Homo sapiens: one gene and its partners. The protein of the gene in region 1 interacts with the protein of each later gene in a pairwise test. Each region holds a gene or a part of one and is shown on either strand. Other genes may lie near its edges.

Region 1 (7,157 bases):
GTCACCTAAGACCTCCCTGGACCTTAGGAGCCAGAGCCTTCCCCACGACTCTCCCCTGACCCCACAGAAGAGACGCCTCCCAGACACAGCAGCCTTCACATCTGGACTGGTCCCCGCTCAGGATAAAGGCAGAGCACTCATCCATTAAATGTTCCCCAAATGCCCTCTCTCATCGCTAATCCCCAAAATCCAACAAGCACAGCCACCTGTCAAAAAACACCCCACCCACAGCAAACATCAGCCTGAAGTACAAGGCCACTAAAGAGATTACCACCCAAGGACAAGGCACTCAGAGAGCAGAGCTCAGAAGAGCAGACCGGACCCCTCCTGGGGCCTCTAGGAGCTCCGACACGGCCAAGCTCTTTTGGGGCTGTGGGGTTCCACAACACAACCATGTAGTTGGTACCAGCAGCACGCAAGTGAACTTGCTGGTTCACTAAAACATATCCCTATCCAATGCCTCACTGTAAACATACTGGATGCTGGCTTTCTCATCTGTGTCTTGCTCTCTTCCCCATCTCCTTGAACACCGACAATGAAGCATAATCTCCCCCGTTCTGGGCCCCCAAGTAAGCATTCTCCCCAGCATAGCACCTGGCAAGGAAGACTCACAGAAACCACTGGCTGAATGGAGTCAAGTCCACTCCTGGGCCTGAAGTGACACCACCGAGGACAGCAAAAGGATGACTCACCCTTTCACTAAAGGCCCCCAACTGCCAGGTAGTGGTAGCTTCCCCTCCTTTTTGTGCACTTCGGCCCATCCCCTGCTGCACTGATCTGACGGAACTAAGGAAGGCCCGAGACAGCTCTGCCGCTCCGAGAAGTTCAGCTTTCTTACAGCTACAGACAGCACCCCCAAAATGCCCATTTTTACACAGCTCTCGAACCCATTTCAGAGACAATTTTATGATAGAAATAATAATCTGCATTAATTTTCTAAGGCGAGGACTGGAGGAAAGAAAAGTCGGCAACAAAGCCTGCTTTCACTTAACACCCTGCCAGGGTGCTGACTTGAAGGCTGAACCCTGGCCCCCACCCCTCCCAGTCACTCCTTCCACCCAGATCTGCTCCAAATCGGAGCCTGTACAGTTAGCTACTGATACACAGCTGTCTCTGCAGCATCCACCCCCCAGGGGCCTTCACAAGCTGAGCCTCTAGAGGCTGCGCATGAAGCAGGGCAGTCTGGCATCGGCAAAGCAGCTAGCCCTGGACAGACAGAAGTCAGAGGGCGTCCTGGGGGAGTCAGAACCACAGGCCTCTCTGCCTGAGTGATGGCTTCAGGGCAGAGCCTGGGGGCTTTGTTCCCACTGGTTGGTAGGAAACAGAGGGATGGGCAGGGCCAGGCTGAGCAGACCTGCCTGCAGTCACTGAAGACTTTGAGAAGGACCAGCAAGTCACACCAGGATACAGGAGTCCCTGGTTCCCCTCCACAGCCTGCCAGTCTACCTACCCAACCTTTCCTTGGCTGACCTTGAACAAATTATGCAAGCCCCATTCCAGCTGAGGAATGAAAATCCGGCCCATACTGGAAGCACAGAGGGGAAGGATAGTGTATCTATCACCCAGCACAGTCTGCATAATACTTACGTAACCTCTGTCTTGGGGGTACACATCCTTCTTGGCTCATCAGCTGAATGGCAATGACAGCTGCTGTGCTCACCGTGCCCCCACCCCACCCTACCCCATACACCTACCCCCAAAATCACCTCTTTGAATTCAAAGCACCCCAGAGCCTGTCATGCATAAATTTATCCAAAATATGGAAAAAGTTACGTATATAAAGATGCTAAGCCCTGGCACATAATAGGCATTCAATATAAATGTGTTTGATGAGTGAATGAGCAATGAGCATCAAAGTATTATTTAGCAATGGGGAAAAAAGTAGAAACTTGGAATCTGACAATAGGAACTCATTACAATGCAACCAGGAAGTAAGAGCTCCCTCTGCAGGCTCACTGTTGCAGCATCACCAAGAGTGGGGGAGTTGGGGAGACCCTCAACTAGCAATGACCTCCACTCCCTGCCTGCTCCCACCTCGGCCTAAGGAGAGCTGATCTCAGGCTGAGGAGACCAAGTGCCATCAGAAGCACTGGTTGCTTCTGACCTCAATACCATGCATGGATTTTATTCTAAGGGCCACCAAGAGCCACTGTTGAGTGACTACCACATCTGTGTTTCAGAAGCTCACTTAACCAGCAGTCTGGCAAAAACGTAAATAATATCCAGTGTCAGTGAGGGTGTGGAAAACAGTCACTCTTGTTCACGCCAAGGGGGAGTACTACAGGTACACTCTTTTTGGAGAGCAATTAACCCAGCATTAACCCTAGTGGCAATTCCACTTCTAGGAACCTGCCCCACTGTAGCAACCAAGGCACTACTCAAAGATGTGTATATGAGGATGCTCACTGCAGCAGTATTTGTAACACAAAACCCAGAAGCAACCTAAAAGTCCATCAAAAGGAAAATGAATGAATAAAAATTAAGGTACTATACTTGCAAACTAAGGAGTACCATATGGTAATCAAAAAGAATAAGGTGGGTGGCTCATGCCTGTAATCCCAGCACTTTGGGAGGCTGAGGTGGGCGGATCACTTCAGGCCAGGACTTCCAGATCAACCTGGCCAACATGGCAAAACCCCGTCTCTACTAAAAATAAAAAAAAAATAAAAAAAAAAAATCACCCAGGTGTGATGGTGCACGCCTGTAATGCCAGCTACTTGAGAGGCTGAGGCACAAGCTTAAACCAGGAGGCAGAGGTTGCAGTGAGCCAAGATCATGCCACTGCACTCCAGCCTGGATGACAGAGCGAGACTGTCTCACAAAAAAAAAAAAAAAAAAAAAAGAATAAGGTGGATGTATGTGGTGGCATAGAAAGCTAGCTATGAAGCTACGATAGCCGTGCGCAGTGGCTCATGCCTGTAATCCCAGCACTTTGGGAGGCCGAGGTGGGCGGGTCACCTGAGGTCAGGAGTTCGAGACCACCCTGACCAACATGGAGAAACCCTGTCTCTATTAAAAATACAAAATAAATTAGCCAGGCGTGGTGGCGCATGCCTGTAATCCCAGCTACTCGGGAGGCTGGGGCAGAAGAATTGCCTCAACCTGGGAGGTGGAGGTTGTGGTGAGCTGAGATCGCGCCATTGTAATCCAGCCTGGGCAACAAGAGTAAAACTCCGTCTCGAAACAAAAAAAAAAAAAAGAAAGAAAGCTAGCTAGCTATGATACAGTTAAATGAAAAAAGTCAGAAAATTTGTAATTCCATGTAATTGGAGGAAAACCTTTTTACACATCTTTCTATGTTCATGAATGGATGGGAAAGCATGTGGAAGGATACAAGCCAATCTGCAAATTGGGGCTGGCTTAGATACGCTTCTGGAGAAGGAGGTTTAGGGAAGGAATGCACTTCAAATCGAATTTTCATTTTTTGTTCTGCTTCATTATTTAAGCTGTTTGTGTATACTAATAATTTGTTTAAGGATAAAGAATTTCAATACAAAAATTAGCCGGGCGTGGTGGTAAGTGCCTGTAATCCCAGCTACTTGGGAGGCTGAGGCATGAGAATCACTTGAACCCAAAGGCAAAGGCTGCAGTGAGCCAAGATCGTGCCACTGCACTCCAGCCTGGGTGACAGAGCGAGAGACTCCCTCTCCAAAAAAACAGCACTTTAAAAGCCAACCACTGTGCCTGAAATTGAGCTGTGTTGTGTCCCAAATCACGTTCCAAGGCTGCTGCAGTAGCAATGCCAGAAGGCTACCTAGAGTGTCCATACAGATTGCAAGAACAGATTTAAACTACACTGAGATGGAAGAGTTATCAGGCAAGGTCCGTCGGGGCACATTTCACTCCCAGGTGACCACTAGTGGCTTGGCCACCCTGCCAGAAATCATGAGCAGGAAAGAGCTCCCTAACTTCAGGGTGCACAAGAATCACCGGAGGCGCTTGTTCAAGAAGAGCCTGCCAGAAGAGATGGAACTCCTCCTGCCCTACCTCTCAGCCTGTGCCTAACAGGCAGGGCTGCCCCCAGGTGCCACTGAGAAGCAGCAGCTCAGGGCGGTTCCTGCACTAAGCACCTACCAGGCCCCCGCCTGGTAGAAATATGCTCTCTTCTCTGCAGAGGCTCCCTCAAAAGGATTCAGGCATGTGCCAGGCATGGTGGCTCACGCCTCTAATCCCAGCACTTTGGGAGGCTGAGGCAGGAGGATCGCCTGAATGCAGGAGTTCGAGACCAGCCTGGGCAATACAGTGAGACCCTGTCTCTTTTAAATAAAAAATAAAAAGAAATAAATAGTAATAATAGAAGGATTCAGGCAGATGAGCTTTGCACCCCTAGAGAGCCAACAACTACTGCAATGGTTGATACAGGGAGCAGGGTGGCCATGGGTCTCCAAGACTCAGCTAAAAACAGCTGGGAGGAAAGGCCTTAGGCCTAAGGAAGTTGTTACAAGGAATGAGTGAAACAGGCAGAACAGCAGAAGTATCTGGCATGGAGTAAGTGTTCAACAAATGGCAGTAATAACCATAATCCACTACACTGGATACTCTGTCTGCCCCTCCAGATCCATTCTCCTCCCTTCCACCCTGCTCTGTGCCCCCAGAACTGATCATTATGGACTGCTGTCCATGGGCTTATGATTGGGCTTAGCCTTTCAACGTGAGGTACTTGCAGAAGACGGGAGTTTAGGGAAGAATGAAGTCGGGGTACTCACCCCGAGTCTCCCTCCCTGCTAGGCTTCAGATGGGCAATGACTACCTTCCTCTACCCAAGGCCACAGCTCCTGCCAAGAAGCTCCCTCTCTTGTAGGCCTCAGGGTGTTAACAGACCAGACCTGACACCCCATCCACAGCTTTGCAAATGATGTCTTCATTAAACTCTCCTGGATTACCAAGTGTAAGTGTGCACCAGATCCCTGCAAAGACGCTAACCAACAGAGCAATCACAACCATCATCATCATCATTGCCATCATCTTATGATTCTGCCAAGGAAGAGAGTACTATGGAAAAGTCTCTGGCCCCGCTGTTTCACCAACACCATTCTAGGTGGTTTGTCAGGGCAGAACTAGGCCAGCCTATAGGAGGGGTATCAGACCAGCCAGTGATCACAGAAACAGCACCTCTTCCTAGCCCTGAGGACCAGGAAAAGCAACTTCCCCAGCAGAAGGCAACCCTAGCTCTAAAAGCCAACATGGGGGCGAACACAATCAGCAGCTCGCTCACACACATGCACGCATGCACACACACACACTCCAGCACTTTCTCTTTCTTGCCAGGAAGAAACAACCCAGGGGAACAGTTCCTGGTTCAAGCTCCAGGATGCTGGCAAAGGCTGATGGCCCTGTGTTCTGGTAGCAGGTCTGCGTACCCAATGCAGCTGTTCTCTCCCTCCATTCTTCCACAACAGTCTCGCAGTGGGCAGTAGAGCTTTCCAGGGGTAGCTTCTATTTTGAAACACCCTGGCAGCTGGGCCACCACCAGCACAGCTGAGTTCCATGCTGAGCTCCTGGGCTCAAGAGGTTGCTGACTCAGGGCAGCCTGCCCACCCACCTATCAAGGGGAGATGGCCTGCGCTGGCAGCCAGTACACTATGGTCTGGATCCCAGGCATACCTGGGGCTCCTACCTGACCTAAGGCACCTCAAGTTCCCTGGAGCCTCACTGCTTGGCTTGACCAGGTAGGGTTGAGACAGACAGTGCTTGGGCAGGAAGCCTCGGGAATCAAATAGACCTGAGTTCTAACCCACCCCACCACTTTCTAGGTATGTGACTTTGGGCAAGTCGCAACCTCTCTACTCCTTTTTCTTCAGCTCTAATATGGAGAAAGAGAGCCTGGATGGCGTCACTGTGAGGACTGAATTAGCTCGTTAATATACAACACTTGGTACAGTGGCTGGCGCTTGGTAAGCAGGGAATACACACAGTATTTTATCACAAGTTTTCATTTTGTATATTTATTATAATAATGGCTGCTAAGCATGTTCAAAAGGTCACCCTGAACCACAGGGTCCAGAGTCCTTCATGTCCACAATGAGGCATTGTTTAGCTGAACAGGTCCTGAAAGAATGCCTCCCACCAGATCCCAGGGAAAACGGACCCTTATAATAGACACTCAGCACCACTGTCCTTGCAAGAAATAGAGGTGACTCCATTGTCCACTGCCAGTTGGCCCGCACACAGCCATGCACAAGTTCACTCTGACTGGTGTGGAAAAATAATGTCTCCCATCTGAACACCAATTTTGACTTTCCAAAAGGCATTCACATCTGTTAGCACCTTGCAAGGGTCCCTTGGAGTGCAACTGCAATGTGAGAGCACCACCATTCAGACCAGGCCTTGAATCCCAACTCCACTCCTGCCAGGCTGTGTTACCTCACCTCTCTGTGCTCGAGTCTGCTGACCTGTGAAATGGAAACACACTATCTCTCTCCCAGGGTATAGGGTGGTGAACTCAACATCACAGAACATTCGTTGAGCCCCCAGAAAGGTGCTGAGCAAGCCCTCAATCAGCAATCACTGTAATGACGACAATCATACTTTTATAGCAGACAAACTCGGCCGGGCTCAGTGGCTCACACCTGCAATCCCCGCACTTTAGGAGGCCGAGGCGGGTGGATCAGGAGGTCAGGAGTTCAAGACCAACCTGGCCAAGATGGTGAAACCCCATCTCTACTAAAAAATACAAAAAAATTAGCCAGGCATGGTGGCAGGCGCCTGTAATCCCGGCTACTCGAGAGGGTGAGGCAGAGACTTGCTTGAACCCGAGAGGTAGAGATTGCAGGGAGCCGAGATTGCACCACTGCACTCCAGCCTGGGCAACAGAGTGAGACTCCATCTAAAAAAAAAAAAAAAAAAAAGAGAGAGAGAAACTGAGGCACAAGACAGTGACTTGACCTGTATGAGACCGACCCTATGGCTCACCAGACCTGTGTTATGGGCCTAAGCTACTCTCCAGTGCTCTTTCCAGCACAGTTCTGAGTAAAGAACTTAAAGTCCCACTCATCCCAAACCCCCTGAGTACGTGGTAAAATGGAGAAATGCGCCCAGACCCAGCTGAGGAGCCCACTGGTCAACTTTTCTCAGTGGCTACCACAGGACTCCATGGAAAACCCAAAGCCGCAGACTACAGAATCTCTGAGCACCAGGAGGGGCTGCCTCCAAGCTTC
Region 2 (8,118 bases), on another chromosome or scaffold:
GGATCCTAAACTAGTAGATAACTAAATCTAGCCTAGATGCCAAGTTGACCTTTCTGAAGTTTCCCTGAGCACAGAGAACAAGCAAAGACAAGGGCACCTCCTTCCTACTTACGGCTGCCACTCAACTCCCAAGGTTTCAAGAAGGAAAAAGATCTTCTTACAAAAAGGATGGAGGGCCCTATGGCAAGACTGGGAGGAAAGTTAGTATTTTTTTTTAAGATTGTGGAGGTGTGCACTATGTTCACTTTACTATGAAGGGCAAAAGGAAGAACATAGAGTATATCTTTTGAAGTAGATAATATCACTATGAGTAAAATCTAGGCCTTAGATTCTATGGAAAACGATCTATTTAATGGTTAGATGAGACTTAACAGAAGGTCTCCAGAAGTTGAGAAGAAATGGAACAGGGCGTTTCCTCCTCTATCGTTAAAAGGAGGATAAATTAGAAAAGTTAGGAGTTCTTTTTCCACTGTGAGTCCATAAAGACTGTTTTGCTGAATCATGCAAAAGGAACTGGTTTTAAGCCAGTTCACGTCCTTCCCTCCCTCAGAAGTGAAACTCCAGTTTACCTCATGGCTACAAATAGGATAAACTCCAAGAATGTCTTACCTTGGCCTTCCTTCCCCTCCAAGTCTTCCTACTGCTGCACTTAAGAGTAATTCAGTGACATGCTCCCATTTTCTTACCCATTTTCAAAAGACAAAAGGTTTCCTCCTTCAAGAGAATGGTTCCCACTTACTAAGCCCCAGAAGACCCCTGGAAAACACATATTTTGCTTAGTGAAGATGTACTATGAAGAAGCTGCTTCTACCACTTAAAGAAACAGCGATAAGGTAAACTCACCCAATGTAGCACCCAACCTCTTTAGTTGTTTACAATGATCAGGGGTAAGGTAGAGAAATACATTTTAATTTTTTCTTCTCAAAAATACCTGGATCAAAAATTGACAGTCTGATTTGGGATCATATACAGAATAGAAAATTGGAAAAATCAGGCAAAAATCCATGTGTTATAAACATATAAAAGGCTCAAACTTCTCTTCCCGGTAAGGTAGGGAATACTATACCTGATCCTAGGCAGACTTGTATATTAGTTAATAAATGCAGATATTTCTACCGTGTTCCTAACTATGGCTCCCTGATAAAGTACCACTTTTGATCAAATCTAGATGGATCTAGAGGCCAATAAACATTAACAAAACCCCAAAAAAGTATGGTTAGCTTAAAAAGTGACAGCATTTATAACTGTTGGCACAGTAAATACGTTTTATGCTAATATTTAATCTATACAAGCTAAGAGTTCTGGAAATAGTTTATGTTTCATGGGGATGGGGGATGAGGGCTGCAGGTAGAAATGGGAAGGAACACAACTCTAAAAATCCCAAGGATTGCTGGAGAAATATTACTACCTAGATCCTAAGTATAAGAATGGCCATAAGCTGTATTTCTAAAGTATTTTTCTGCATTCAAGGTTTGAATATTCCATTTCTCAACCTTTTTCTGGCCTAGTCCTATCTTTCACAAAGCTTAACTTTTCCCTATTCAGTGGCTGGAAAAGGGACTTAAGAGGTTATAAAGGGTTGGATAGGCATATGATGTGTAAGAATCTGTCCCTGGTTCTCTGCACAGCCCTGTCCAATCACTGATTAATTTCATAAGCCTGTCTCCCTGGATACTGTATATAAAAAGGATATAATCTGGGGAAGAACTGTTGTCAAGCCTTGGAGCCCCACAGTGTAGTGGGACCACTAGTACTCCAGAACCATAATATAACTAGACATGCCTGGAATGCTTCTGATGAAAACTAAGCAACTTCCAGTTTGCTGATTCAGGAGCTGTTAAAAAAAAAAAAGGGCAACACCGATTTACTACTCCTATCCATAATGGTAAAACTGCCAAGTCAGATCACAGGTCATCAATTTGGCTATCATCAGCAAGCTCATGTGCTAGAAGCAAGGTAGAAAGCGGAGGGGACAGTGAGGGGCAAGCCACTGGAAAACAAGAGAGTCTCAAAGTTGGGGAGTACACGTGTCCTGGAGCCTGGAACGGCCATCACTAGCAAGAATAGGCCACTCCAGCGGAACAGCGTCAGAAAGTCCTTCCCTCCAAGTGTTGCAAGTTCTGGAATCTCTGAAGGCACACCTACGCAGAGTGTTCTTGGCTCTTCCTAAAGCTGTTATCAAATCATATCTTGGCCATTGGAGGCGGCTCTGGACAAAAAGTCTTTCGGCCACCTACTTGGCAGCTAGTGGTTTTAAATTTCACATTTTGTGCCCAGAAGCCTGCAAATACCACTGCACCCTCAGATGATACGTTGGCCTTCCTGTAACCTATAGCCAGCAGCTGTGTCCTCCGACTTTGGCTTTAGACACCCATCCTCCCCAGGGAGCAAATTCCAGAACGGAGGGTGGGAGGGCGGTGCGACCCTGGGCACTAGTCCGGGGAAGTGATCGTCAATGCCGCCCCGCCCCTGCGCCCTCGGCCTGACCACGCTACCTGCACAGTTTACTAAGACGAGTTAAATGGACAACAAACCCTCCCGCGGGCGGTGAGTTTCCAGAACCCGCAGAACACAATTTTATCCTCCCCACCCCCCACCTTGGCGTGGCCTTGCCCAGCCACGCCGGAGGCGGGGAGGCCAGGAGGGATCGAGTGGCCCGCGCAGGGCAGGCCGAACGGGTGCCAGCTCCCAGCAGCGCAGCCGACGCTGAGCAGAGGCCACACGGCCTGGCGCGCGCCGGAACCAGTGCGGGGGAAGGCGAGGGCGGCGCAGGGGGCTGAGCGGCCGGGAGGACGGCAGGGAGAAGAAACAGGGAAGGCACCTCCGAGTCCGGCGCAACCGAGGCCAGGACAGGGCTACGCGGTGGCCACTTACGAGTCTCCCAGAAAGTCGTGGAAACGGATGCGGCCGACGGTGGTATTGGCCTCAAAGTTGGGAGCCACGTCCCCGAGAAGCAGACCTCCGGGCATGGCGACGGTGATGAGGGGGCGCCGCTGGGACAGCAAGCAACCGGTTGGTTCTGGCGAAGAAGCAGCCTGTCCCAGCGCGCGGAGGAATAAACGAAGGCGCGAGGGGCGGGGACTGGGGCGGCGGGGGCGGGGCCGCGGGAGGCCGGCCGCTGGGGGCCGGGCCGCGGGGGCTGGGCTGGGCGCGGGGCGGGGCGGGGCTGGGCGCGGGGCGGGGCTGGGCCGGGCCGGGCTGGGGCCGGGACGCGGCGCGAGCTGGACTACCGCGGTCGCTGTTGGTGGCGCCGCCGGGCCTGCGACTAGGTGGCATCCTTCAGACACTATAGGCCGTCTCTGCACACGTGATGCGGGGCTCGGTCACGTTGCCCCCTGGAAGCTTGAGGATGCGCCAGGTTTGACTCTGCAGGGCGTACGCGCTTTAGGGATGGAAGGAAGAGGAACGCGGCAGGAAGGCGAGCCCCAAGGTGGAGAATCGCCTGGGCGCGCAGGCTGCGGCGGCTTCGCACAGCCGCCCTGGGCGCTGCACGGGTCCGCGCGCACCCTGCTGCGCACCCACTCGCGGCCAGCTCCCTACAGAGGAGTGGAGTGACTGCTCGACTACCACCCCTCTTTTAGTGTGAGCGTCTGGAGTCCTGACCGCCCCAGCCAGCCCAGCTACGATGAACTGTCTAAGAGGATGTGGCAAGACCCAGAAGTATGGGTGACCTTATGTCAGAGGAAGTGGCTTTCTTATTGCAGCAAAAATTCCCGTACCAATGTCAGTGCTAGGGTAATGTAACTAAACTTTTATTTATTTTTATTCTGCCCTCCCCTTTCTGTTTGTTATGAACCATAAAATATTCAACACAATTATCTTGAAATCTAAATATAAAATTTAAAACATACTCTTTGAGACCTACTGTGTGCAGGTCAACTCTGTCACCCAGGGAGGTGGGCGGCTTAGATTCATTTATTTGCTATGAGCCAAGTACAAGGTAGATAAGATGCCTGTCCTCTTGGAGCTTTCCTTCTTGTGAAGGGAAACCGGTGACAGACAATAAGCACACAAACCAAAATATGTTAGACAGCAATCAGTCGTATTCAGAGAACTAAAATAGGGTTATGTGCCTAGAGGGTGACTGGGGGGCTGCTTTGGTTTGGGTGGTCTGGTCTGGGAAAGCCACCAGGATAATGTAGGTAAACTAGTCAGCTCACGGTAGGTGCTCTGGAAATGGTAGCTATCGTTTGGATGATGACACTGGCTCATGCAGTAACTCTTGCTTTGCCTGCTGTGTGCTGGACACTGTGCCAGGCCATACAGTGGAGAAACACAGTCCCTGCTGTTACAGGGAAGGCATATTTATATGCAATTATAATAAAATGTAGGGTAAATTCTGATGGGGGAAGGTGTAAATGATTGGAGTTCAGAGATGAGAAAAATCCTCTGGATGGGGCTGGCAGGTTTAAGGCAGGGGCATGGCAATGTTGAGAGTAGTGACTCACATACTGTGATTTGCGTTTTCATCACAGTGATGTGTTGGTGCGTGCATGCTAATCATATTTACCGAGTTCTTCAGTGACCCAGGACTTGCAGTAAGATTACTGGTAAAAATTTCTAGCCACTTCACAAAACCGTTTAAAGCTAATGTAATTTAATCTCTAATTTGGCTCCAAGTTTTAACAGCTCCTTGTTTTAACTCCCTTTGTAGGGAAGAAAGAGAATAGTTGGGAAAGAAGAGTAGTTTGGCCTAAGGCACTGTTAACAATATGTTGTGGAAATCAGCTAGAAAACACAATACTCTATAAATATGGAGAATGAATACAGAAACAGATTATTGATGTCTGTCAAAGGCATAATTATATTATTGTCTGTTGTAAATTAAGCAAATATAATAAAATACTCATTAGAATTTACAGTGCCAGAAGCTGTACACTGGCAATGCTTCTGCACTCTGTGAACTTGTTTGCTTTAGACTTTGGAGCATTTTAAATTGTCTTGAATTAGCTGTCCACTGAAGGGGGCCAGCCCCTCCACGCCTGTGGGTGTTTCTCGTCAGGTGGGATGAGAGACTGAGGAAAGAAATAAGACACAGAGATGAAGTATAGAGAAAGAACAGTGGGCCCGGGGGACGGCGCTTAGCATACGGAGGACCCGGCACTGGTCTCTGAGTTCCCTCAGTATTTACTGATCACTATCTCTACTATCTCGGTGAGGGGGATGTGGCAGGACTATAGGATAATGGTGGGGAGAGGGTCAGCAGGAAAACATGTGAGCAAAGGTCTCTGTGTCGTAAATAAGTTTAAGGAAAGGTTCTATGCCTCGATGTGCACATAGGCCAGATTTATGTTTGACTTTACACAAACATCTCAGTGCAGTAAAGAGCAGTATTGCCTCCAGCATGTCTCACCTCCAGCCATAAGGCGGTTTTTTCCATCTTAGTAAATAGAATGTACGTCGGGTTTTACACCGAGACATTCCATTCCCAGGGATGAGCAGGAGACAGATGCCGTCCTCTTATCTCAACTGCAAAGAGGCCTTCCTCTTTCACTAATCCTCCTCAGCACAGACCCTTTACTGGTGTCAGGCTGGGAGACGGTCAGGTCTTTACCTTCCCACGAGGCCATATCTCAGGCTGTCTCAGTGGGGAGAAACCTTGGACAATACCCAGGCTTTCTTGGGCAGAGGTCCCTGCGGCCTTCCGCAGTGCATTGTGTCCCTGGGTACTTGAGACTGGAAAATGGCGGTGACTTTTACCAAGCATACTGCCTGCAAACACATTTTTAACAAAGCACACCCTGCGTAGCCCTAAATCCATTAAACCTTGAGTCAACACAACACATGTTTCTGCCAGCACAGGGTTGGGGCTAGGGTTACAGATTAACATCATCTAAAGGCAGAAGAATTTTTCTTAGTTCAGAACAAAATGGAGTTTCTTATGTCTTCTTCTTTCTGCATAGACAACAGTAACAGTCTGATCTCTCTTTCTTTCGTCCACATCAGCATTTTGAAAACATGATTTTTCATAAAAATATCTGGATTTTTGTCTCCTGAAAGGTCAGAAGATCTAGCAACACAGCAACACCAGGCCCATGTTCCATCTGGCAAACAGTGGCTGCTGAGTAGCCTTTTAGAGGGCAATGTTCTCTGTTACTCAGAAGGTCCTCTGCCAGTTACTAACATTAGAGTAGAATTGGGAGGAAAAAGAAATAGTTCTTGCATTCTTATCTGTCAAAACTGTGCAAATGAAAGCTTAACTAAGGGCTGTATATTTCAAGAAAAAAATGATCATGTTTCTTTGTGAAAGTAGAGAATGTTCCATGAACTTAATATGCAAACAAAGTCAGAAGAACGCTGTTCTGCCTGGCCTTCGTAGGTAATTGAGTTTAACATCTGACTTATACCAAAGGTAGGTGCTCTGTGGACTGGGCCCCATTCCAGAGGGAAAATTTTAAAGCTATTTTCCTGAGGGTTAGTGAGATGTATAATGGGAAAGGAGGAGGGGAGGAAGGACAGAGGAGACATTCCAGGGAAAGACCGGAGTGTGGAAAAGGGAGAGCTTGACTAAGAAAGGATTTACTTTCCTTAGAGAGAGGGTGGAGGCTCTCCTATCAGAAAAAGTGTTTTCATACAGCTATAAGGGTCGGAGAGAACCTTGAAGTCCTTACAGTAATCTGAGGGACAGGAAAGAATGGATTTCAGGCATTTCCAGAGGGCTGTGACTCTGGGATGACTCACATCTTCTCTTCTGTCTTTACTGCTTTGACAGAAGAATAAAATGAACAGATTAGCAATGGGCATTTGGAAAAACAACAGTGCACCATGATGCCTGTCTCTCTCACTAGATTGTGAACTCCTAAAGGTTTGACTATATTTTATTAATGAATATTTGTGACCTGTTACACATAGTGGGCATGAGGACTACGTTGTACAAAGTATTAGAGAAACATTGGGTCGCCTTCCTGCAGCCACAACAGCAAAGTTTCTTGTTTGTCCACAGCTGGGAGTAAAAGAGCAAGATGTCTCTAGTTATACAGTCATGTGATACAACATTGGACCACATATACTACGGTGGTCTCATAAGATGATAATGGAGCTGAAAAATTCCTTTCGCATAGTGATGTCTTGAGGATCCTGACCCTGTGAAGCCCTAGGCTAATGTGTGCATTTATGTCTTTGTTTTTAAGTTTAAAAAGTTTCAAAAGACAATAACCTTTTAGAATTATAAAAAAGCTTATAGAATAAGAATATAAAAAAGAAAATACAGTATTTTGTATAGCTATACAATGTGTTTGTGTTTTAAGCTAAGTGTTATTACAGAAGAGTCAAAACATTAAAACAATTTTAAAGTTTATAAAGTAAAAAAGTTATAGTAAGGTAAGGTTAATTTGTTATTGAAGAAAGAAATTTTTACACATGAATTTAGTGTAGCCTAAGTGTACAGTGTTTATAAAGTCTACAGTACATTCATTCACCACTCACTCACTGTCTCACCCATGGCAACTTCCAGTCCTGCAAGCTATATTCATGGTAAATGCCCTATATAGGTGTACCATTTTTTATCCTTTTTTTTTTCATTTTTTTTTTTTAAGACAGGGCCTTGCTCTGTCACCCAGGCTGGAGTGCAGTGGTGTGATCATAGCTCACTGCAGCCTCAAGCTCCTGGGCTCAAGCAGTCCTCTCACTTCAGCCTCCTGAGTAGCTGGGACTACAGGCACATGCCACCATACCTGGGCAATTGTTTTATTTTTGGTAGAGACGGGGTCTTCCTAACCTGTGTTGCCCAGGCTGGTCTGAAATTCCTGGGCTTAAGTAGTCCTCCCACCTTAGCCTCCCAAAGGGCTGGGATTACAGGCTTGAGCCATATTTACCATGGTGTTATAATTGCCTACAGTATTCAGTATAGTAATGTGCTGTGCAGGTTTGAGGCGTAGGAGCAATAAGCTATACCATGTAGCCTAGGTATGTAGTAGACTATACCATCTAGGTTTGTGTAAGTGCACTCCATAATGTTCACACAATGACAAAATTGCCTAATGACACATTTCTCAGAACATATCCCCATCGTTAAGTGATGCATGACTGTAATTAGAGCTAGGTAAAAATCCCTGTACCAATGGGAGGAGACATATAAAACTAAAATTAATGTTAGGATGGTGAGATTGTGTTTTTTTT
Region 3 (7,000 bases), on another chromosome or scaffold:
AAAAAAAAGGTAGATAGTGGTTGCCAGAAGCTAGGTGGAGGAAGAAATGGGAAGTGACTGCTAACGGGTAGTTTTTTTCGGAGGGTGATGAAAATATTCTGGAATTAGATGGTGATGGTGCTCGGACAACCTTGTAAATCTATTAGAAACCACTGAATTGTACACTGTACAATGATGCGTTTCATGGTAGGTGAATTATAACTCAATTGAGAAAATAATAAAAGCAGGAGCTCTGCCATCAGCCTTGATGAGGCTGAATGCTGGCTCTATCGTTCACTATCTGGGCCTCACCGTCTGAAATCACACCCACCTCACAAGGGCGTTGTGGGGATGAACTAAGCAAAGGCTCACGATGCCTTTAGCACAGTACATGGCAATGAATACAACAATGAATGTTGGCTTTGGTTCATATGAGTACTAGAAATGATTAAATAAGACCCCTGCTAAGAAAAAGAAAAGCCGGGCGCCTAGTAGGCACTGAATGCCCCCTTCCCTGTAAGGCACCCTCGAGGTCTCCGAGTCTGGAGCCTGTAATCAGGCATAGACTCAAGATGAACATGAGCCGACATTTTCTGCCTCGCACAGGGACAGCTCAGCTTCTGTGTGCAAAGGGCTGAGCCGCCGACTTCACGGTTCAGTTTTCCCTGCCACGTGGGTACAGCCACCCTCTCCTTTTACGGAAGACGGTCTGAGAGGCTGCTGGCTTGAGTTTTCTCTGAGCAGAGCTGGGCACATTTACGCAACAGATAAGCCTGCCCTACCCGGGTCGGATCCACCCGGGAAGAGAGAAAGTGTGTGCAAGTGAAAGCTCACAAATGTGTGTTTCAACTCCCAGAAAAGCTTAACGGAGTCAGCCCACAGCACCAGGGGCCATGGAGAGCCATCCTAAGCCTTTCCCTGCATCAACTATCCCTCCCCAGTGCAGATATCTCAGCAGCAGCAGTCCATGGAGCTGTCAACTTCAGTCCGTGGGACTCTGAAGCAAGGACTCTGATAAGGTAACTCAGGAAATGGGCTAATTTTAAACACAGCTCGAATACTGTGATGTGAATGGAAACAACTGAGGAAGGAAACAGACTAAAACTCATCTATTACAAATTTGCAAAGGTTTGACCATAACAAGGGTTGGTGTGGAACAAAGGCAACCTGCACATACTTCCGATGGGAGTGTGAACTGGCATGACCACGGATGGCAACTTGGCAGAATCTCGTATATGGGAAAACGCACACATCTCTCCGCCTGGTGATCTCAGCCCTAGGTACACAGCTTAGAGCCTAGAGAAACTTGTGCATGCGCTGAATGAGTTGTTCTAGAGAAAGTTCACCAAGGCATTGTTTGTCACTTGAAACATTAGAAACACAAATGCCTATCAAAAGCAGAATAGATGAATTAACTAGGGAGCTTTTATACTCTGTAAGAAACCAGAGCAGTTTAATGAAACAGTTACGTAGATCAACATTTTTAAAATCTCAAAAATACAATGTTGAGCTAAAAGAAAGTAAATGGCGGAAGGATACATACAGTATAGCACCATTTATAAGAGTTTAAAACTGGCTGAGTGTGGGGGCTCAGGCCTATAATCCCAGAACTTTGGAAAGAGGCCTAGGCAGGTGGATCACTTGAGGTCAGGATTTTGAGACCAGCCTGACCAACATGGTGAAACCCCGTCTCTACTAAAAATACAAAAAAATTAGCCAGGTATGATCTCAGCTACTCAGGAGGCTGAGGCAGGAGGATTGCTTGAACCCAGGAGGCAGAGGTTGCTGTGAGCTGAGACCGTGCCACTGCACTCCAGCCTGGGCAACAAAATGAGATTCCATCTCAAAAAAAAAAAAAAAAAAAAAAGTTTAAAACCACACAAAGCAATACCATATATTGCTTAAACACATAGTCAGTATAGCACCATTTACAAAAGATCAAAACCATATATCTATAAAGCAATACCATATACTGTTTATAGACATATGCATATGTAATAAAAGCGTAAAAACATGCATGAAAAGATAAACACCAAATTCAGGACAGAGGTCACCTCCGAAGGGAGAAGCAGCAAACTATCTCAGAGATGGCATAGAAAGGGCTTCAACTGTGTCTGTAATGTAATTGTAATTGTGTCTATAACTTCTCAAGCTGAGTAGCAGACTCAGAGGTGTTTATGTGAACCTCAATCTTCTTTTATGTGCCTCAAATATTTCATAATAAAAAATTAACTCAAATGTATTGATTTGTGAGGGGACAGTATTAAAATACAGGTTCCAAGGTAAAACATTAAAATCAACAAGGACAGGTTTTTCTCCTAAAAGAAGGAAACAGAGGAAGCAAGAAGAGCCCTCTGAATCCTATTCCTGATTTTCTTTCGACCTTAGAAAAATGTTTTATCTCCTCTGGATGGGCCTTCAGTCTCTGTTTCTAAATGGGGAATAAATTGCTTGCCTTCTGTCTGCAACACACAAGGCAGGCAGCAGGATGCCCTGGGGAGGGAGCCGTGCTGGGAAGCCCGGGAATAATACTTCCTGTACTGACAACCTCGCTGAGGCTTTTGAAAGAGCATATGAAAGCATACACACACCTACACATATGTTAGTATAGTTGTGTGCAGAAACATTTATAGTGTAATCTCAATTACATATATATATAATTCATACCCGACATGACACTCACGAAGTGTTCCAGGATGCCCAGAGACAAAAAGCCATTAAAAAAAAAAAAAGCGGCCAGGCGCGGTGGCTCACGTCTGTAATCCCAACACTTTGGGAGGCCGAGGCGGGTGAATCACGAGGTCAGGAATTCAAGACCAGCCTGGCCAACACGGTGAAACCCCGTCTCTACAAAAAATACAAAAAATTAGCTGGGTGTAGTGGCAGGCACCTGTAATCCCAGCTACTAGGGAGGCTGAGGCAGAAGAATCGCTTGAACCTGGCAGGCAGAGGTTGCAGGGAGGTGAGATCGTGCTACTGTACTACAACCCAGGCGACAGAGTAAGACTCTGTCTCAAAAAAAAAAAATGCAGTCCAGAGGCAGTAGCTGGCACCCGTAATCCCAGCATTTCGGGAGGCCAAGGCGGGCAGATCACTTGCGGTCAGGAGTTTGAAACCAGCCTGGCCAACATGGTGAAACCCAGTCTCTATTTAAAATACAAAAATTAGCCGGGCATGGTGGCAGGCGACTGTAATCCCAGCTACTGGGGGGCAGGGGGGGGCACTGAGGCAGAAGTATCACTTGAACCCGCGAGATGGAGGTTTCAGTGAGCTGAGATCACACCACTGCACTCCAACCCAGGATACAGAGTGAGACCCCATCTCAAAAAAAAAAAAAAAAATGCAGGCCAGGAGCATTGGCTGGTGCCTGTAATCCCAGCTACTCAGGAGGCTGAGGCAGGAGAATCGCTTGAACCCAGGAGACAGAGGTTGCAATGAGCCGAGATCACATCACTGCATTCCAGCCTGGGCAACAGAGCAGAACTCCATCTCAAAAAAAAAGAATAAGAAAATACATGGCCGGGTGTGGTGGCTCACACCTGTAATCCCAGCACTTTGGGAGGTCGAGGCAGGCGGATCACAAGATCAGGAGATCGAGACCATCCTGGCTAATACAGTGAAACCCCGTCTCTCCTAAAAATACAAAAAATTAGACGGGAGTGGTGGCAGGCGCCTGTAGTCCCAGCTACTCAGGAGGCTGAGGCAGGAGAATGGCGAGAACCCAGGAGGCGGAGCTTGCAGTGAGCTGAGATCGTGCCACTGCACTCCAGCCTGGGCAACAGAGCGAAGACTCCATCTCAAAAAAAAAAAAAAAAAAAAAAAATACACATTTTTGTGACAATTAATTTTGACTCCACCTTACAAAGTTTCTAAGTATAATATCCCTGATGTGTACTGTTTACCAGAAGTCAATGTTATTTCCAGAAATCAAGACCAATCAAACTGTAAAATTTTTACCTATTTTTCTTTAAGATCAAATACAATGAACACAACCCAGTGTATATTAAGTGGTTGCAAAAGATCCCGTTGTTAAGGTTTATTAGGCCAGAAGGCAGTGGGCACCTGTCCTGCTACTCCAAACAGACTAACACATCCCCAGAACTGGGGATGGGAGCAGCTTCCTGAAGCACTTAAGGAGCTAACATCTGCAGCCTAGCTGTAAGCAGTTCCTAGCCTAGGGATTTCCCACCCAAGGTATGACCACACCATGCTGTGGGCCCTCATAGCCCATATGCTTTGCACATATAACACAGCAAATACTTCATTTTTTTTTAATTATTATTTTTGTTTAGATGGAGTCTCGTTCTGTCACCCAGACTGGAGTGTCAGCTCACTGCAACCTCCGCCTCCCAGGTTCAAGTGATTCTTCTGCCTCAGCCTCCCGAGAAGCTGGGACTACAGGCATGAGCCACCACATCTGGCACCTTTTTTGTATTTTTAGTAGAGACGGGGTTTCACCATGTTGGTCAGGCTGGTCTCGACCTCCTGACCTCAAATGATCAGCCTGCCTTGGCCTCCCAAAGTGCTGGGATTATAGGCATGAGCCACCACGCCCGGCCAGCAAATATTTTATGCTCCATGAGAACTGGGACCGTTTCTGCCTTGTTTATAGTTGTCACCCCAGCCTAGCACAGTCCTCTGCACATAATAAAAAAATCAAACATTTTTTAAAGAAATGATTGAGCTCCTGTGATCAGATTTGATCTTCAGGGTTTTCAAATCAATAAGCATACTTAGGGAGGCCAAGGCGGGAGGACTGCCTGAGCCCAGGAGTTCAAGACCAGCCTGGGCAATATGGTGAGACCCTGTCTCTATAAAAAAATAAAAACAAATCCATAAGCAGGTGCCAGCAGTCTGACCACAACTGATTCCTGGATGCAGAGGTATACAGCTCCCTGTCTTTATCCATGTCTTCCCTGGACCTTCTCAGGCATGCTCAGAGGTGATTCCAGTGGCTAAATCTGTCTGCCAGGAATCCCTGACTGCAGACACACACAGACAGTCCCAGTCATGCCAAATCAGTCTTGTAAGGGGAAAGCTGCCTATGTCTTCTCCGGAGAACAGTAGGAGCGTGGGAGCATGGCACAGCTTGGCCAGATGTGAAAGCACCTCACAGACACCCTGCCTGCCAGTTTATTCCTTCATGACATTCCCAAACTATCCAACCAGATAAAGTGATGGGGCTTCTCTTGGGAGAAACCCTAGGAGTATCTAAGGTAGGAAAGGCAGGGATTATAAAGTCAAGATTCACCAAGAAGCTCTCACTGAATATTTGTACAACATCAGAATTGAGAGGTTATGAGACACTTCTCATAATTTTCTTTCTTCTTTTTTTTTTTTTTTTTTTGAGACAGAGTCTCGCTCTATCATCCAGCCTGGAGTACGGTAACACAATCATAGCATCACAGCTCACTGTTTTGGGATCAATCTTTTGGGCTCAATGAGCCTCCTGAGTAGCTGTGACTACAGGTGTGTGCATGCCACCAAAGCAGGCTAAAAAAAATTTTTTTTTAAGATGAGGTTTAATTTTGTTGCCCAGGCTGACTTTTCATAATTTTTTCTTTTTTTTCTTTGCCACTGCAAGAACCCACAGATTTTTCATAATTTTCTTTTTTTTTTTTTTGAGACAGAGTTTCGCTCTGTTGCCCAGGCTGGAGTGCAGTGGCATGATCCTGGCTCATGCAACCTCCGCCTCCCCGGTTCAAGCAATTCTCCTGCCTCAGCCTCCCGAGTAGCTGGGACTTCAGGTGCATGCTACCACGTCCAGCTAATTTTTGTATTTTTAGTAGAGACGGGATTTCACCATATTGGTCAGGCTGGTCTTGAACTCCTGACTTCGTGATTCACCTGCCTCAGCCTCCCAAAGTGCTGGGATTACAGGCATGAGCCACTGTGCCCAGCCAGATTTTTCACAATTTTCTAACTATCACCTCTCTCACCCCTGAGCAATAATGAATGGGCATTTTTTTTTTTTTTTGAGACGGAGTTTCGCTCTCGTTGCCTAGGCTGGAGTGCAATGGCGTGATCTCGGCTCACCGCAACCTCTGCCTTCCAGGTTCAAGTGATTCTCCGGCCTCAGCCTCCCAAGTAGCTGGGATTACAGGCATGCGCCACCACACCCAGCTAATTTTGTATTTTTAGTAGAGACGGGGTTTCTCCATGTTGGTCAGGCTGGTCTCGAACTCCCGACCTCAGGTGATCCACCCGCCTCAGCCTCCCAAAGTGCTGAGATTACAGGTGTGAGCCACTACATCGGCCTTTTATTTATTTATTTATTTTTAATGCTTGCTTTTGCAGCTGGAACACATAGGCTCTAAGGAATGTACCTTGGGCAACCCTTTAATTGCTAAGCCTACTCTCCCCTGTCTTCCTGGGTCAAGTACTCAAGGACTCCTGAGTTCGGCCATTGGACAAATCACACTCTCTTCAACAGCACCCATTAACCAATTTATGCAGATGCCGTCTGGATAATGGGGTTCCAAACTGGGAAGTCAGACACCTGAACTGTTTCAACCCAGGATATATTTTTATGGAGTTGAATTATTGATGTGCCTCAAGGCAATGAGGAAAGAAATGACACCCTTTTCATGATCACCTACTAGTGGAAATCACTTAGCGTTATGGGGATCTCGCCCAGAGAAAATCCACTGGCATTTGCTCACCATTCTGACAAGCCTGGAGGAAAGGAAGTCTAATCTTTCTTTAGAAGCCAAGTTCTGACCTTCCTGGACCCATCTTCCCTTTCTAAACAAACAGAGCACTATGCAATCCTTCACCCTGCTCCAAGCTCCTAATGGCTAAACCGAGTGGAAGAAGCTGGCGAGATGAGATGCGTGTTTAAAGTTACTTAGAGGTCAAAGAACCCAGCCTCTAGCTGCAGAACTGGCAGATGTCTGGGATTCTGATGAATGGAATCCTTCACAAGCACACATATGCCTCCCTTTCCTCCTACAGGCACTAGAAGAGTGAAAGGAATATATGTGTTTTGTGCTTAGCTCAGCCTAATGCCAGTACACCCTCT

The links.
Region 2: the proteins of VDAC1 (region 1) and PRDX6 interact in binary tests that used the Homo sapiens proteins (3 or more experiments, as listed by UniProt).
Region 3: the proteins of VDAC1 (region 1) and HK1 interact in binary tests that used the Homo sapiens proteins (3 or more experiments, as listed by UniProt).

Annotation. Positions count from the first base shown.
Region 1 is NC_000005.10:133,994,888-134,002,044, forward strand, and holds part of VDAC1 (non-selective voltage-gated ion channel VDAC1), read right to left. Parts: intron 1-7,157. UniProt on the Homo sapiens protein: Non-selective voltage-gated ion channel that mediates the transport of anions and cations through the mitochondrion outer membrane and plasma membrane.
Region 2 is NC_000001.11:173,472,249-173,480,366, reverse strand, and holds the start of PRDX6 (peroxiredoxin-6), read right to left. Parts: upstream 3,033-8,118; 5' UTR 2,970-3,032; coding exon 2,875-2,969; intron 1-2,874. UniProt on the Homo sapiens protein: Thiol-specific peroxidase that catalyzes the reduction of hydrogen peroxide and organic hydroperoxides to water and alcohols, respectively. Can reduce H(2)O(2) and short chain organic, fatty acid, and phospholipid hydroperoxides.
Region 3 is NC_000010.11:69,321,847-69,328,846, reverse strand, and holds part of HK1 (hexokinase-1), read right to left. Parts: intron 1-7,000. UniProt on the Homo sapiens protein: Catalyzes the phosphorylation of various hexoses, such as D-glucose, D-glucosamine, D-fructose, D-mannose and 2-deoxy-D-glucose, to hexose 6-phosphate (D-glucose 6-phosphate, D-glucosamine 6-phosphate, D-fructose 6-phosphate, D-mannose 6-phosphate and 2-deoxy-D-glucose 6-phosphate, respectively).